Regions from separate parts of the Homo sapiens genome. Here region 1 is linked to region 2. The links come from fine-mapping of genetic effects on gene expression. A gene starts in region 2. The other region holds a variant in brackets. All regions are shown on one strand. Distances are between the middles of the regions.

Region 1 (9,386 bases), 23 kb before region 2:
GCTTTCACCATGTAATCAGTTGATACTACAGCATCTGTCCCAAACAATTACCTACATATATTTTTTCTTGTTAGTAACATGTGACACGTGTATGTGTTTTTCACCTAAGTCTTTTCCCTTAATATTTATCTACAACCTCAGCTCCTTCTGAGTTGAAGCTTACTGGACCCTGTTCTTACTAGTTCTATTACTACTATTTTTGCATTGTTCAGTATGTGTCCCCTCTTTCTGTTTTTAAAATATGTTCACCTAGAATCTGATCGCAGTTAACTACCCTGGTTTCATTTGATGCTGACTCTTTTTCTTCCTCATTGGAAATGGGTGTTTAATTTGTTCATTCATTTACTCAAAGCATTGGTTGAGCTTCTTGTAAATGCCCCCCGACCCCCCAGAAAAAGACTCTTAAGGTTTTGAAGGCAGAAATCTTATGTAATTCATTTTGACATCTCCTTTAGCATTTAATAGTGTCATTCACAAATAAACAATCAAATATTTACTGAATGAATCGATCCTGTTGCAAAACTTTGAGTGATACCTTCAGGCGTGAATTTTAAGTTAATCTGTTCTTACAGCATGTAAAACAGTTTTTATCTCATTCTGTTACGCTCCTGTGAATTCCAGTACTCTCATCTATCTCTGCTTTCCTTTCTGTGTCAGCTGTTTTTCTCAATATCCAGTTTTAACTTTATCTGAATTTTTTTGTCAATGTCTTACTCTTCACTGGGTTGATGGTCTGCTGACAAACACATTCTTTCTACTATTTTTGAGTTGTATTCTGTCTGTGGTCAGAAGTTCACCATGTGAATAATCATACGTCATGGCACAGAAAATTTAAAAACCTTGCCTTGGTACCAGCTACAAGGTTAGCTATTCATTCTCTGTTTTCATTTTTCTTCTAAAGAAACTTACAGATAGAAAAAAAGTTGAAAATATAATCTGGGCCTTAAGTTTTCTACTAAAAAGAATCTCAAAATTATTAGAGATACAGTACAGGCTTCTCTGGGTGCATCATTGATTTTTATATAAATCAGAGTAGATACTAATCTATTACTTTAGTAAGCAACAGGATTTTAACCACAACCCCAATATGCTGTTCAGAAAGATATTACCCCATCTTTTTAGTTATGCTTCTCAATCTGCAAGGTGGAAAACTGTGTGAGTCATTCTTGATTTGTCTTTTTCTCAACCCTAATCCAACACCACATAATCATTTAAATAGTCACTAAATATAGGTGATCCTACCTCCTCAATATCTCATGAATCTATTACCCCTTTACCATCTCTATAGCAATGATCTCAGCTGAATGCCTCATCACCTTTTCTATCAATGAAACTCCTCCCTAATTTGTCTTCCTGTTTCTAACTTTGGCCCCTTCAATTAATTAATCCTCCACAGCACTATTTAAATGATTTTTCTCAATTGCAAATTTGCTCATGTCATCATCTGTTTATGTTTTGTAAAATTGTTTCCTATCAAATGAGTGACAAATGTTTTGTTCTTGGAATGACTCACAGGAGTCTGAATGAGCAGACTCCCTTTAAACTCTTCACTGTTATCATCAGCCATTATTCTTGCATATCATATATTCCTAATCAATCATACTAACTTCTTTGAGTACCACAAATACACTATATTGTTTTACTGCTCTGCCTTGAATGTTCTCTCTCTCTCTCACTGTCCGCTGGCAACGCCCCACATTCTTTAAATCTCATCTCTGATGTCATCTACTATAAGCCTTCCCTGCACCTCTCATAATTGATAAATCCCTTCTCTGAATCACATATAGAGTTCTTTTCAAAGCACTGATTTTATACTACAACTCCTATTTATAAGTTTGCACCTCCAATTGGATATCACACTTCCTATGGTAGGGATTTGGGTCTTTTTTTTTTTTTTGTATTTTGATCACTTAACGAAGTGCCTACCACAGAGAAAGCAATCAATAAATATTGGTTACTAAGTGAATTCATGCTGTATATGGGACAAACACTGGTCTTAAAGCATGGCACACAGTTCAAAATAGGTTCTGCAGAAAGCATACATCCCAATACTTACAACAGCAAAAACATTGAGCTCTTAATTATTCATGCTTACAGAGGAAGACAATTATAGATTTTAAAAAATCATGGACAATATAAAAATCCTTTATATTTGGCATTCCATATATGTTTATATACACGTCTGACAGATTTACTTTCCTAATAATCTTTTGTTTAGGCTAATAATAAAATGAAACTGTGGGCTAATACACCAGCGATAGAGCTGATGTTGTAACGGGTATGCTAGGTAATAAGTCAGGTGGTCTAGAACTAAGAATAATCCATGAAATGGGCATTCACACCTGGCTATGCATTCCTCTGGAAGGGAAGAGAGCTGGAAGGCAAGGGAGTGGGTCAGCCATGCTCCTTATCTCACACTATAAATCCTGGAGGAGAGAGACAGCTGCCAGTAGCTTATGTTTGGTCAATTTTCCTGGGAAATAGGCCCAGAGGATAGAAGAGATTGAAAGTCAAACAAAAAGCAAAGGGGGGTTATGAGGACTATGAGTCACACTTGTATTTTGGGAAGTGCCTCTGACGGATGGAGCAGCATTGAATTGATTCCAACCCATTATTTGAAACTAGTAAGAAGAAAAGAAGAGAGGAAGGTAGCAGAATGGGGGAGGAAAGACCAAAAGCAAAGGTCAGGTTACCTTTCTAACAAATGTAGAAAGAGAAAAAGACACTTGGGGTCTGTGTATTTTTAGGATAAATAAGACTGATTGTAAAGGGAAAGCTCTAACAATTTCTATATTTGAGTATTGTGACATGTTTAAGATTTCATTCTGAAAGTTTTTTCTTTTTTTTTTTTTTGAGACAGTCTCATTCTGTCGCCCAGGCTGGAGTGCAGTGGTGCAATCTCGGCTCACTGAAACCTCCACCTCCTGGGTTCAAGTGATTCTCTTGCCTCAGCCTCCCGAGTACCTGGGACTAAGGGCATGCGCCACGATGCCCGGCAAATTTTTTTTGTATTTTCAGTAAAGACGGGGTTTCACCATGTTGATCAGGCTGGTCTGAAACTCCTGACCTCAAATGATCCACCCACCTTGGCCTCCCAAAGTGCTGGGATTACAGGCATGAGCCACTGCGCCCGGCCAATCTGAAAGTTTTCTATGCACAAATCTAGTGTGCCTCTGAAGTCTTTCAAGTCAACCTTTTTTTGGCCCCATACTATGTTGCTACCGACATACTATAATCCAGTTCTGAGAAAATCAGGACTGACAGACTTTAAAAATGACACTGAAAAGCGACAGACAGGTTTGAACCTGGCTTAACCACATAAAAGTTGAACAAACTCTCTGAGCTCTGGCTTCCTTCATTATAAAATGGGCAAATTCTTGCCTTGCCTTTTTCACAAAGTTATCATCAAGATGAAATAAGAAAAATAAAAAGTATTTCTAAAAGTGCTTGTGTGTTTGCACATGTAAAAGAGAAAAAGACTACTTCAGACCTTCTGTAAAAATTCAACCAGGTTCAGCGAACTAATGATGGCAGGATCTGGAGTAAGCTTTGCATTTCATGCCTCAGTTTTCTCACTTGTAAAGCTTACTCTTCCTGGCAGGCTCAGGGAAGTAAATACTGAAACCAGTAAAGCATTTGGTACTGAGCAGTTAAGAAAATTGGGACGAGGCCTCAGGGGGTTTTGGATAATATGAAAACTCTATTTCCGAATCCTTCCTAAAACCAGACCTCCATGTACCAACCAATAAAACTTTCACTGCAGAGACTATAGGATCCAAATGTCTCTGTCTCTTCTTTCCTTGTCCCCGTGTGAACAGCAAGCCTGGCTCATTCTCAGTCCCCAGGTAGTTATCCTGAGCCTGCCTTTCTCAGCAGCAAGGGCAAGGGCAGAGAGGTGGGGTGGGGAAGGGGGAAGGTAATTAAAATGGCCACCCATTCAGAAGAAAATTGAGTCCGTGGAGGGGAAAGGGCAGGGAGAGGGAGCAAAACCCTTAGTGCTGAAGCACCAGGAAGAAAGGCAAGACACAAAAGAGGGAAGAAGGCAGTAATTTAGTGGTTGTCTTGACGACCAGAGTCCCTATTGTTCATGGGGGCTTTACCTCACAGGGAGATCTCCCTGTTCTGCTCTGCACATAGAACTCCCACCACAGGAAAGGAGGATGGGAAGGGAAGGGTTGCAGGAGGCAGAAGTGATAAGTAATTATGTGCTCGCAGAAGGGGCTGACCTCCAAATTTCTGCAAATATTACGGATAACAGATTTAGAGTGTGCTCAGCCATGATTTGGAAGAAAATTATTAGGGATTTATTTAAATCAGCAGACATGGGAGGACTTCAAATTATGCTGTGAAAATGGCTACAGGAGGCTGGAAAAGACCAGCCTTGAGGAGAATAAAGAATACATATATGAGAAGCAGATGCCCAAGATAAACAAAGAGAAAAAACACTGAGAGGGGTGTAGAGGAGAAGGAAAAGTGACTATCATTAACACCATCACCTTGGTGTAGAAGAGCTACCCAAAAGTATTTCCAGTTCCCTGTCTACAGGCTGAAATGTAAAACCTTTCCAAGTAGAAGGCCATCTATCCCGTTATGAAGGACGTAGGGACACCGAAGTGGCAACTCCAGAATCTCCACAGAATAGGAACTTTGGGAGCACTGACTATGGGTAGAAAACACAGAGGAGTAATAAATAAAACTGGAAAAACAACAAAAAGGAAACCTGGGGGAGAGAGGAGGCAGGTGTTGAGGAACTTACCTTGATGCTGCATTTGCACACCAGCCTCCCTCCCAGGAAGGCTGAATCCTCTCCGAGAAATCTTTCGGGGCCAGCATTATATTAGAGCTAAAGTATATTTCCCACCAATTTACCCAACTCCCTCCCTGCTCCAGTACCAAATAGCTCTACTTCTCCAAAGGGCACTTGGAGAAGCCTGCAAGGACAGAGGTAAAGATCAAAAGTAAGCAATAACATATGGTTGCTTCTCCAAAACCAAGTTAATGGGGGAGAGCCAAACGGTCTCCATCCATGGCCGAAAGCAATAGGGAATGTCCTTGATTATGTAACAGGTTGATAAGATTCCTAACATCGGGGCTATTCAGCACTGACAATCTCCATCTTAGTGAATACATAATGTATAAGATTTTAGGATCACAGGAGACCCTGAATATAGGTCCAAGTAGTTTATACAGAATATTAACAAAATTCTTGCAATTCAGATGTCTAGCTGGTCTCATCACCACAGACTCTGTTCTGCTCACTCTGTTCTGAATGAATCAGCTCCAGCACTGAATTTTTAACGGGTGGGATCCACTCAAAGGGGCAACTTCTGGTCATCCACACCACTCAGAGAAGCAAGCATATGCTGAAGACGCATTAGAGCAGAAGGAAGAAGGGTGAAAGATCAAAGAAACAGGGCTTATCTAAAAGTCACTGGCACTAAGGAGTAGGCAGATAAGTGGCCTCTAAACCGTAGAGCAAGCCAGGGAATGGCTTCAATATACTGTATCAACATCA[C/G]GGCAGGGGACCTATAACTGCAAAACAAACAGGTCTTCCTCAAAGGACAGTGAATGGTATTGTTTAACCTGCAGCGCCACCTGGTGCCCATAGAGAGAATTCCTGTGCCCACGCCATGCAGCAGCAGTTTGGTAGGCTTTTTGTCACCTATTTGAAACAATAAAAGCAACACACATTCAGAAAGAAGCTGGCTAAAAATATTCCAGGTTGCTTTTTATTTGAAAGTAGAATGCCCCTCCTCCTGTTTTAAAAATGTCTTAGTGTCTAGAATATTATTTAGCCTAAACCAGTCTAAATGACACCTATCTCACAAGATCTAGCTGTTATACCTTCCTCTATAAAGCCTCTCTAACATTTACCTCTAAATTATCTCTTATCCCCCCAAAGAACTTCATGCACTAGGCTATGATTTCTATTTCGACAGTAACAGACAAAGGAAGTTAAGTGGTTTGTTCTAAGTCACATAGCCTCAAAGCAAGATCTGATTTCAGATCTGACTTCAAAGTCCAAGTTCTTGCTTTCCATGTGGAAGGAAAGAGGTGGAGAAAGTACAACAGCAGGAGATGCTTCCAGAGAGGGCAGGCTCGGTGGGGCTTCATACTGGGAGGCCCAGGTTGTGGAGGGGCGCTGCACTCTTTGGAAAGGAGAGAGCCATTAGAATGGGAGATGGCCTGAAGGGCCCCCAAACCTCTTTGCTTAGGCCGTACCATGGCTCTGGGAATCAGAATTCCCCAATTAACTGAAGATCTGGGTATGCCCTGTGTGGAGGGAATGAAAGACTCAGTTTCCATTTTGCTTCTGGTCCCCCAGCACTGTTGAGGAAACCCTAAGATTCTTAATAGTGATAAGCAGAGGGACTGCCTCCAGTAGAATGACGTGTGATCTTCTGTGTTCATTTATTTGACACAAATTTACTAGGTGCCTTCTATGCATGGGGCTGGGTGTTGAAGATATAATGGTAAATAAGACGCAGTCCCTGCCCTCAGGATGCTGACATACATTCTAAAGCTGTCATCAAAATGTCAAAATCTTAGGTTCCTGTTTGCAGTCACAGATGGGCAAGAGATGCCAAGAACCTGACTTGGAAAAAAAGGCTCTGAGGTTTAAATACCTCATGATATTCTGTTTTTTGTTAACTTTTACAATGAGCAATTTTGTACCTCTATTTGAGTATATGAGACTTCAAGAGCACACACACACAGAAATGCAAATGCAATGCTCAGGCACACGGCTGTCAGCTGCCATCCACCTGCTACAATCTCAAAGATATATTCCAGTAGAGACTGTCACTATGTGACAGGAAAGCCATGATGTCTTCATCCTAAGATGGGTGTAGAATAAGTGATACCCAAGAAATATGACAGGCAGACCACTCATATGACAGGGGAAACTGCTAGGGCCCATCCTGGCCCAGTCTATAGAAGTCAAGAGCTTCCCTTTGGCATGGCCTAATGGAAGAGGCCTGGGACAAGCAGTACTCCTTCCCAGGGAGCCACAGTACAATCTGAGCAAAGCCATCAATGAGAAAAATTAATTTCAGCACCTCTAAAAACAGCCCAAGCCAATGACTGGAGAGCCAGAAAATAAGCGAGAATTCTGAAGACTGAGCTTGAGTTAATTTTGTATGTGGGGGTCTTGCAAAAGTATGCGTATTTCTAGAAAAGCTGTGCATAGGAAGAGATGGGGTATAAGACATAGCCAGGCATCAGAGCTGAACTGGAAGAAAAAGTTACACAGCAAAGGAAAAAACTGTAATCTATGCTTCCTGAGAAACTCTGAGTCTTAACGTTGATAATCTTTTCCTGATTGTGAATAGCATATAAATAGAGATAGCTAAGAGACAATCTCTGGCTCAGAAGTGCTTTAAAAATAAAATCAGAATATGCAGACAAAAATAATTTATATGCTACCATCAGATGCGTGTGTCCCTGAGACCAGCTGGATGGAAAGCAAGAGAGGCTAGATGGGAATACGGCAAGGGAACTTTCAGGTGAACCCAGTTCTAGTGGCCACTGCTTTGTGGGAAAGCTTGCATGGAGGGGAAGCATGGCAGAGCAGTGGGAAACACATGAGCTCTGAGGCCAGGATGACTTAAGTGGAATCTTAAGGTGTGGTTGTTACGACTTTTATGATTTTGGGAACGTTATTTTATCTGAATGTAATTTTCTTCACTTATGAAATGTAGAACTACATGTCTATCTCATAGAATTGAACATTAATATAAACAGTACATAGCTGCTTTCCTGGTATTAATATTGTAATAAGCGTCAGTTCCTTTCCCATTGCAATTACTCGTGCACTTTTGGTGGCAGACCTGGAGGTTCTCTTAAGAAATAACCAATGTCACAAAGAACTGTTATCCACCTGCTAGTTAGACATGCCCACCAAGAAAGAGGCCCTTGAAGTAGAGTTCCACAGAAAGCGCCTTGATTCTGGAGCGTTCTAAGAGAACAGTGGAAGCAAGAGGGTTCATGGTCAACCTTTCCCAACTGTCCTTAGGGGAGGTGGACGTTGCGCCTTGCAGCACAGCACTCTCCAGTGCTCCCAGACTCTGCCGCAGCTCTCCTGACCTTTCCTAGGAGATGGTTTAGAGAGAGACATCTTCTCTAAGAAAGTGATTCCAAGGTCTGGTGTAAGGTCTAGAGCTTGCCATCAAGTTTCTCCTGGGTGCCCTGCTTGTTGGACTCCTTAAACCTGCACACCCTTTCTTTTCTTCTTCCTCTCTGGATACTTCCTAACTTTACACACTTCACGCTCCCCTCTGCCAGAACCTTTCCCCCTGGCTTTCTGCCAAGCCATTCCATTCCCACATGCCCCCAACACTCACACACACACACTCTGTCTCTATCTTACACACACACACACAGACACACACACACACACTCCCTTTTTAACTGAGAAATCCTGACGCAGATGCCAGGAATGTGTCTGCTGCCCTTTTGACACAGGTCTGATGCCATCGTTGGGGCCATGGGGAGGGCAGCGCCGCGGACGTGGCATTCACGCATTCTGCTGCTGGCATGGTTCCTATTTTTATCGTGGCATTGCTCTGGGTGTCCAGGCAGGGCGCCGGTCCAGCTTCTCATTCCTTCACTTTCCATCAGGACTCCACACCAATCCTACCCCTTACCTTGGCTGGATCTTCCTGCCCCAAACCCCCTACCATCAATGCAGCACAGTGTATCTCTCCTCTTTCCCTCCAACCCAGTCTAACTCTGAGTACTTGCCCAGTTTGCTAAATCTGATTCTGATGTTTGCAGAGATATTTTCAAGTTTCTTCTGTTTTCGGGCATGAGCAGAGTTTGCACAAGCCGGATTTGCTCCTTGGCTCAGAGTGCTACCCGCTCTCCCCTTCCCCTCCCTTTGTCTCTCATTCCAAATAAGGAGTGCTTCTTGTTACATAATTGGATGTTCCCAGCACAGAAGCTGACACATGAGGTTAGGCGCACATGCATGCAAGACTTCCCTTTGACTTAACAATGCCTTTTTTGGGCATCTAACTTCTCTTCAGCTCCCCTCCCACTTCTCTCCACATCATCAACAATCAACGGAGATTTATAAGCCTGGCTCAGATCAGAGCTCTTCCAACTTTGGCTTAGAAGGAGGGGTTATGAGGTCGAACTTACTCTGTTTTTTTTTTTTCCTTTGCAGGATAGAGAGTGTGCTTATAATTTGACAGAAGTCTATGGCGTCCAAGGCAGTAATGTACACAGGTCTTTTAAAGTTGCAAGATGGGTATACAAAGTTGGAAGCAGAGGAATAAACTTGCCTGCTTGGGGATAATAATACTGGAGGTTGGAACATGAGGACATTTTAAGGAGGAGATGCACTCAAATCTGGTGACTACAGCATCCCTGATGGTCAAACTGCA
Region 2 (9,386 bases):
AAATTGGAGATGTGATAAGGGGTCAAAGTCCACTGTCTTCCTAAGCTTAGAGGGCTGGTATGTGGAAAAGACGACTTATATCTCATGTTCCCCAAAGAGTGAATACCACGGATGGCATGGAATCTGCAACTCAGCATGGGGGCACACTTCTTGACAGGGTAGTTAAGACACAATGAAACGCTGTGGGAGAAGTATATATGTGCGCCTTCTCATTAGGAATGGGCTATTATTTTTCGGTTGAGGTATACTGTGGGCAAGAGGTGGAAAAAACTACCTCCTCGTTGGTGGGAGTTGTGGCTGGTGCTTTACAATTTTCTGGAGACAGGGTATTCATTATGAGCTGATGTGAGCAAAGCAGTCCCTCAGAACAGCACTGAGAAGGAAAGACCAAGTAAGAGCAACAGGTGGCATTCAGGGTGGGGCTCTCAAGCCTGGAGCATTTGGAACTATGAGGCTTTCTGTGGAATATGCTGCTCCTCGAGGGCCAATTTTCAACACCGTTATGGTTACTTCCATCACATAAACCGAAAACTATTTACTATCAGAAAGTATAATAATATTGATATACAATTTAAAATCAGTTATATGTCCATATAAAAATCTAAACCCAATTTCAAACTACTCATAATTGGCTATATTATTTCGTTCTCATTTTTTACTTTACTCTTTTCTAATGCTTAATTGAAGCAGTAGCAGATGTCAAAATCTAGCCAACAACAAAAAAGAACAAATAATGGGAGAAAGACTGGGAACTTAAACATTCTATCCATCAACTTAATTTTTCTGCTAATGAGGAGGGAAAAAACCTGCTGTTTTATGTCAGTATTGGAATAGTCATTAAAAAAAGATGAAATAACCAGAAGCCAACACTTAAATGTGAGAAAGGTGCATGGCATAGGGGCATCCAGAATTAGAACAAAAAGGCAGGAAAATGTTAACAAAGTTATACCAGTCCTTTGAGGCTAGTCTCAGTTATTTTATGACCAGACATCTGTACTTCTACAATTTGCCTATAATGAGTGTGTGTCTGTGTGTTCACCCATATGCATTTCTAATTACTTCCATTCCGTCTTACTTGAAAATGTCATAATGTTACTTTCTAAAATGCTATGTCATGATGCAGCTGTGTTGAGCAGATCAAGGAAGGTCTTTTCCCTCTTAGTTGGATTGGGAGTTCGGAGGAGTGTAGCAAGCAGGCTGTCCCTGGTGGTAGCTTGTGGACTCAAATGAGAGAAATTCAAGTGTGGAAGGCAAGTAAAATCCAATGGGTAGGATCTTGTCCAAGAATTTTCTTTCTCAACTTCTTCCCTGCTGATTTCTTTTTCAAAATACTGGTACATTTTGTACTTTGTTTTAGGAAGGTAGGTTATTTACCTATGTCTATCTCAGAAGATAGCAAGTTTTTGACTCTTGGAGGTGTGTAAGCAGACTTGGGAACAACTTGACAAGAGATAACATGAAGAGGGTTGGTTGGATTAGAGAGGCAATTCCCCAAGATGGCCTTAGGACAGGCTGACTCTATGTTATCTGGAGAGTTCTATTTGAAAATAAATAAAATACAGAATCCAGGGACCCCCTCCTTAGAAATTCTCATACAGAATCCAACAGAGTCTGTCAGAATCTGTATATCTGAAAGGCAGCTCAAGTGATTTTGAGGTGCAGCCAAGTTTGGGAACCACTGAAAATATAACCCTCAGCATTCTAGCAGCCCTGAGGTTCCAGGATTGCTTGTGTGAGTACAGGATAAACGCTACTCTGCCTTACATATTAGCTTCAGACCATTCACAGAGATAGATGCCTATTGAAAGAACCACTTCAAACTAACAGCATCTCTCCCCCAAGAACATTTGCTTCATGACTGCTTTCCAAACCCACTCCTAGCCCGGGTGAGCACCCACAGCTTTAATCCTGTTACCTTCACAGTATAGAGTGTGTATGGGTGGAATCCAGTGCCACTGTGCTCTCGGGCTGTAATGGTGCCAGTGATACGAAGGTTCTGGATGATAACTGGACCATCGGGACTGCTTAGGGGCTCAAAGCTGAAGGTGGCTGAGCTGAGAGGACCAGGTGGAGAGGAGGAAAGCAGAACTGGTGGCAGAGTAGGATCAAGGGAGCTCACATCATTGGTGAGATCCTTCTCTAAGCATGACGGCCGTGAGGGGCAGGTCTTTTCTGGCCCCTCCAGCAAAGCTGTAACAGAGGCGGTAACATCTCCTTGTTCTATCTCCTTGTCTGCTGTGTCAATATGGATCTCTGGGCAGGAATTCAGTGTGGAGACCGGCAGGCCTGTCTCTGTTTCTGTCCCTGGACCCTCCTCAGCCTCTGCTCCTTCAGATGCCTCACCATCTTTGGGTTCCAGAGCCTGGGAACTCTCTAGGGCACACAGGGCATCCTGAATCCTGTCAGAGAGAAAGCTGCCTGGAGTCATGAGCATGATGGTTTCTTTGCCCAGTTCAGACAGCGGAGACTCCAGCTCTGAGTCTTCACATAAGAACAGGGGACCTCGAACATTTGGCTGTAGGAAATGAGATGAGTTGTTTCCTACTTTTCTTTCTTCACACATCCCACCCAAATCTCCCTCTACAGCTTCGTGGCCTTCTTCAACCTCTGGAGAGGGGCCTGCAGAACCCTCTGGCTCACTGTAACTTAGGAATACTGGGGCTGCTACTGGAGAAGCTCTCCCTTCTGGAAGCTGCTCTACCTCAGCAATCAGTGGCAGAGATGTCGGCACTGAGGGCTGTTCGGGGGCACTGGCTGGGCAGGGTGCTGGATCTCTGGCCTTGGAAAAGATACCCACGAGTACAAGGTGGATCCAGTCAGGATCTGACAGCCTGCTGATCAGTGGTAAGATTACATTGCATGTGATGAGTTCGACCACTACATGGCGTCCGGTACGAGTCTCCAAGTGGGGCTTGGGCACCAGCCCTTGAAGCAACAAATTCACAACGCCACGCGTATAGGTGACTTCAGCACTGGGGCTGTGCACAGCAGGATGTGGGGCAGTCGCCCGGCAGTAAGCCTCCCAGAGGTGGGAAGGCTCAACTGGACCATTCTTCCCTGCAGTGGCCTCCTTTGCCTGAATGTAGCTCTGCAGGTGACAACCGCAGAGAGTCAGAACACTCTGGGCAACAGCATGACTGTCCATCACGCTCATCCTTCTCCGAAGCTCCTGGACCAACCCTTTCATGGCTGCCTCCATTTCTTCCTCAAAGGCTGGCTCCTGGCTCACGGAACGGTACCAAGATAACACAAAATCTCGAATAATCATCTGGATGGTGCGGTTGATCTCCCGTTCCAGCTGCCTTTCTGCCTCAGGGCATGGAGGACAGGTGGCCAACGGGATGAAGCGTTCCAGATGCAGTCGACCTGAAGCCACTCCAGCGAGGCTGGAGCCCAGCCATCCTCCCAGCACCACTAGCAATGCCGACAGAAGGCACAGCAGCCACACGTTGACCAGAAGGTGTATGACCAGGAGCCAGCCAAGCAAGACCCCCACAGCCATCAGCTTCCGGCTACTCAACAGGTTATTGAGGTGACAGCTCGATCCAGCTGGAGTTTCCTGGAACGGTGGCACTGTTTCTGTCTTCATGGCTGAACGGACAAGGTGGCTTCCCCAGATGACAGCCCTCAAGATTTTACTTCAGAGTTAGGGAAGGGGGGCATGAACTGTGTCTCAGATATGGGGCGATCTGGGTGCTGTTCAGGGAACCGGGGCTCCAGGCCCTCAAAGTCCTACAGGCACTGCAAAGCGACAGCTGCAGCTCCGCGTCTCCCCATGGCTACCACTAACAGAGCCCTCCAACTCGCCCCTTCCAGCTGAGGTGTGGCTTTGGAGGAAAACTCTGTGGCCTTCACACTGCCCCAGGCGGAAGGCCTCTTCGGGGCCTCGGGGCGGGCGCTGCAAGGCCCTGGGGCCCACGGACACTTACACACGCAGCGGGCAGCGGCCGGCGAAGACTGGGTCACACGCCGCCGGGAACCGCGCGCCCACACTCAGCCCCGACCTGAAGTGGACTCATCGCGGTCCTCTCCGGGAGCCTCGGCCCTCTGCCGCCGTAAACCTGGGCGACTGCGCTCCGCAGCCGGGCCTGTGTGAAGGCTGACCGCCGGCCGGCCGCCGGCGACAGCTTCCGGGTCGACGTCGACGGGAGCGAGGCATGCTGGGAGAGCGTCCGCGCGCGCCCCGAGGAGCGGCGCTGCCCGGCGCCCTCTGCTGGCGAGGAGCCGCCCTGACGGCCCTGCGCGAGGTAGTCTCTGAGCCTGAGCGTGAGCCTGAGCGCGCACGGGGCGCGTGCTCGCCAAGAGCTGGCGCAGATTTCCGAAGTGCCACGAAACAGCCGCCGCAGCAATCACCGCTAAGACCCAGACTTCCAGGCGCTTTAAAACGCGTCCTAGTTCTGGTTATTAAATGAAGCCTGTCCTTTACTGCTTAGGCACGCTGTCAATAATCCGGTTTATTTTAATTTCATGGAGGCGAAGTTTCATTGGCCTGATGTGTCTTAACATTTATCCGGTTTCCCCTAGAGCCGGTACCCCGCGTCCCCAGCACAAAGACCCTCATTTGTTGTCAGGAATTGCAGAATATAAGGCATGAAACGATACAGAGATAGATTTATGTTGTACATTTCATATACTGTATCACAAAATCAAATTTGTGATTGAGGGTTATTTGCTGGTGGCATTACACAAACAATCAAATATTTTGAGCATCTGCTGTCTTCAATGTGAGAGGCAGCGTGGACGAATAGAAGCAGACCTTGTCCTCCAGGACCTCCTGCTAACTGGGGATGCCAGCGCTTTGAACGCGATTGGCTATCTAGTAATGCCAGTCAGCGTGCGATATAGTAAAATACAAAATCTTATAGGAATTCAGGGGAAGGAGAGATCACTGTGGGTTGCAATGGTTAAGGAGAAGCTCACAGAAAAGGTGCCTTTCTGCTGAGTCTTCAAGGATGAGGGTTTCTATTTCCCTCTATCTCTTCTCGCCTTATCCTCCCCAAAAACATAGAAAAGGAAAGCAGAGATAGAGGTGTCCTTTCAGATAATCCTGTAATATATTTGCTTTGGAATATGCTCTATGTTGGATTGTTTTTGGTTTTAGCAAATTAGACTTCACTTGTCTACACAGGAACCTATAGGAAGACAAAATACCGGAAGCACTGACCAGGTGTCAAAAGTGTTAGTGTCAGTTTTGCGTGAAGCCAGCTTCCATGTCCACCTTGGGCCCTAGGAGCTGTGCCCGCAGGGTGGGTCTCCTTTCCATTTAGGCATAGGATTCGCATCGTTTGCACAGAGCTGCTCATGGTTGCCCTTCGTCCACCTTCTCTGTGCTGTGAGCAGTCTTTCATCATCATGGACTACTCCCTAGATGTTTAAAGGAATCTTCAAACAAATCCCAACCCAAAACTCTGCCAACAAGAAGTGCGTTGCAGCTTCCTGTCTCGTCCATTGCTGCTGTTGGGGCAGAGACTTCCTTTGAATACGAAAGAAGCCATCATTTAGATGTGACCCGTAGTTTACGATTCATCACTTCTAAAGCAAATGGTTTGATTTAGGATCAGTGTCCACTAAGCAGACTGGGCACTCCCGTGAGATGGCAGAATGTGAATCCACGGTTTCACGGTCCATACCTTTTCACTGCTGCCTGCCTTCCCGCAGAAAAGGAACCCGAGAAGTGGGCTCTGCCCCTCTACCTTCCCAGACCATTCTAATGTCCTCAGGAGCACTTAGAAAATGGCAACAATGCTCTGGAGAAAAGTCCCTGCCACCTAGTTGGGAGCTAAAACAGAAATGTGAATGATGAAGGGACTACCGACGGTGCTGAAGACTTCCTGTGGCAGTTCAAAGAGAAAGTTTACTTGGCAGCATAATCTGGAGTGTTCAGGGCAGTAAGGAAGTGACCTTGCAAGTGGGCGCTATGCCACCTGACCAGATGGTCTGGAGCATCAAGGTAGCCAAGAGTGCCTTCCTGATTCTGAAGCGGGTTTGATGGACATGCCCGTGCACTTGTCATTTGGACGGGTGTGAGCTCCTGCCTGGGGGTCTGGGCAGACCCTGGTCTCCAAACAGATTAATCACTGGGAGGAGGTGAGAGTCAGGACTGATGTGCCCTGGTGTGTGTATGTGGGGTGGGGAGACTTGGCCACACCACTCACCATCTGGAGACGTCCTTCCTTCTTTCCTTTTCCCTATTTCTCAAAACATTAAAGGCATAGTGCTAGAGTGTTGGAGAAAACAAGACAAATAAGATACAATAATTCTCCTCAAGGGACTCTCAGTCTAGTTAAAGGAGAGACACATAAATATATAAACGTAATGAAACATGATCACGTGTGTAATGTGATGTGTTCTGATGTGTTGTAATAGAAGTGCATACAATAAAATCGAAACACAAAGCGGGTGGTCAGCTGTGGAGGGGGGTGGCTCATAGACAGTTTTCCCTTAAGTTGGGAAATGAAAAAGAATTGAGTGTATTTTAGGAAATGTTGGGTAGCGAGAGCAAGGGGCAAACAGAAGGAAGGTCTTTCAGGCAGAGGCCTGCTCATAAGAAACAGGCAGAGACCATGAGAGCAGGGGGGCCCGTGACATAGGCCCTGCCAGAGCCAGCCCGCACCCCACTTGAATTTTCTCTCAAAATAGAAGACCAGGAGGCTTCCTAAAGAGAAGCTCAGTGATGGGGCAAGTGAGTGAGAAGAGGCGATGGTATGGAATTATTGCTGTGGGATATAGAAAGGGAGCTATCGAAGGTCAGGTAAAAAGATGAAGTGGGGGCTGGGCGCAGTGGCTCATGCCTGTAATCCTAGCACTTTGGGAAGCTGAGGCAGGCAGATCACGAGATCAGGAGTTCAAGACCAGTATGGCTAACATAGTGAAACCCCGTCTTTACTAAAAATACAAAAAAATTAGCCAGGTGTGATGGTGTGCTCCTGTAATCCCAGCTACTCGGAGGGCTGAGGCAGGAGAATCGCGTGAATCCAGGAGGTGGAGATTGCAGTGATCCGAGATTGTGCCATTGCACTCCAGTAGCCCGGGCAACAGTGCGAGACTCCGTCTAAAAAAAAAAAAAAAGAGAGAAGGTGGGGCTGAGGGACCTTTTTGTAGTGGCACCAATACATATGGTTGAGTTATTTTCTCTGGAGGTGTTTAGTATTGTATTAGTCCATTTTCATGCTGCTGATAAAGACACACCGGAGCCTGGGCAATTTACAAAAGAAAGAGGCTTAATTGGACTTGCAGTTCCACATGGCTGGAGAAGACTCACAATTATGGCAGAAGGCAAGGAGGAGCAAGTCACATCTTCCGTGAATGGCAGCAGGCAAAAAGAGAAATGAACTTGTGTGGGAGAACTCTTCTTTATAAAACCATCAGTCTCATGAGACTTCTTCACTATCATGAGAACAATGGGAAAGACTTGCCCCCATGATTGAATTATCCCCTACCGGGTTCCTCCCATGACACATTGGAATTGTGGGAGTTACAATTCACGATGAGATTTGGGTGGAGACACAGAACCAAACCATATCATTCCACCCCTGGCCCCTCCCAAATTTCATATCCTCACATTTCAAAACCAATCATTCCTTCCCAACAGTCCCTCAAAGTCTTAACTCATTTCAGCATTATCTCAGAATTCCACAGTCCAAAGTCTCATCCAAGACAAGGCAAGTCCCTTCTGCCCATGAGCTTCCAAAATCGAAAGCAAGTTAGTTACTTCCTAGATACTATGGGGGTACAGGTATTGGGTAAATACAGCCATTTCAAATGGGATAAATGGCCAAAACAAAGGGGCTGCAGGCCCCATGAAAGTCCGAAATCCAGTGGGGCAGTCAAATCTTAACACTCCAAAATTGATTCAAAAAGTGGGTTCCCATGGTCTTGGGCAGCTCCACTCCTGTGGCTTTGCAGGGTAGAGCCTCTCTCCCAGCTACTTTCACGAGCTGGCATTGAGTGTCTGGCTTTTCAAGGTGAATGGTGCAAGCTGTTGGTCAATCTATCATTCTGCAGTCTGGAGGACAGTGGCCCTCCTCTCACAGATCCACTAGGTGGTGCCCAAGTAGGGACTCTGTGTGGGGGCTTTCACCCCACATTTCCCTTCCTCACTGACCAGCAGAGGTTCTTCATGAGGGCCAAGCTGCTGAAGCAAACTTCTGCCCGGGCATCTAGGCATTTCCATACATCCTTTGAAATCTAGATGGAGTTTTCCAAACCATAGTTCTTGACTTTTGTGCACCCACAGGCTCAACATCATGTGGAAGCTGCCAAGCCTTGAGGCTTGCACCCTCTGAAGCCACAGCCTAAACTCTACGTTGGGCCCTTTCAGCCATGGCTGGAGCAGCTGGGATGCAGGGCACCAAGTCCCTAGACTACACACAGCACCAGGACCCTGGACCCGGCCTATGAAACTCTATTTTCCTTCTAGACCTCTAGGCCTGTGATGGGATGGGCTGCCGCAAAGAAAGATCTCTGACATGCCCTGGAGACATTTTCCACATTGTCTTGGGGATTAACATTCAGCTGCTCGTTTCTTATGCAAATTTCTGCAGCGGGCTTGAATTTCTCCTCAGAAAATGGGATTTTCTTTTCTATTGCATTGTCAGGCTGCACATCTTCCAAACTTTTATGCTATGCTTCCCTTATAAAACTGAATGCTTTTAACAGCACCCAAATCACTTCTTGAACGCTTTGCTACTTAGAAATTTTTTTCTGCCGGATATCCTAAATCATCTCTCTCAAGTTCAAAGTTCCAAAATCTCTAGAACGGGGACAAAATGTCACCAGTCTCTTTACTAAAACTTAACAAGAGTCACCTTTGCTCCAGTTCCCAATAAGTTCCTCATCTCCATCTGAGACCACCTCAGTCTGGATTTCATTGTCCATATCATTGTCAGCATTTTGGCCAAAGCCTTTCTACAAGTCTCTAGGGAGTTCCAAACTTTTCCACATTTCCCTGCCTTCTTCTGAGCCCTCCAAACTGTTCCAGCCTCTGCCAGTTACCCAGTCCCAAAGCTGCTTCCACATTTTCAGGTATCTTTTCTGCAGCCCCACTCTACTGGTAACAATTTACTGTATTAGTTCCTTTTCATGCTGCTAATAAAGACATGCCTGAGACTGGGCAATTTACAGAAGAAAGAGGTTTAATTGGACTTACAGTTCCGTGTGGCTGGGGAAGCCTCACAATCATGGTGGAAGGCAAGGAAGAGCATGTCTTCCATGGATGGCAGCAGGCAAAAAGAGAAATGAACTTGTGGAGGGGAACTCTTCTTTATAAAACCATCAGATCTTGTGAGACTTATTCACTATCATGAGAACAGCATGGAAAAAAACTTACCTCCATGATTCAATTGCCTCCCACTGGGTCCTTCCCACAACATGGGGGAATTCAAGAT

The links.
Region 1: its variant is fine-mapped to the expression of SNX19 in whole blood (TOPMed, PIP above 0.99). The same link has a PIP of 0.9 or more in cerebellum.

Annotation. Positions count from the first base shown.
Region 1 is chr11:130,889,008-130,898,393 of GRCh38, forward strand. All of the region lies in intron 8 of SNX19 (sorting nexin 19), which reads right to left. Among named protein-coding and RNA genes, the nearest start is that of SNX19, 23 kb to the right of the region's middle. The variant C/G (reference allele first, on the strand shown) is at 5,516.
Region 2 is chr11:130,912,351-130,921,736 of GRCh38, forward strand. SNX19 (sorting nexin 19) reads right to left here and starts at 4,129. Exons shown (of 11, transcript NM_014758.3): 1 at 1,916-4,129. The coding sequence starts at 3,589. RefSeq lists an enhancer at 3,872-3,921 and a silencer at 4,042-4,321.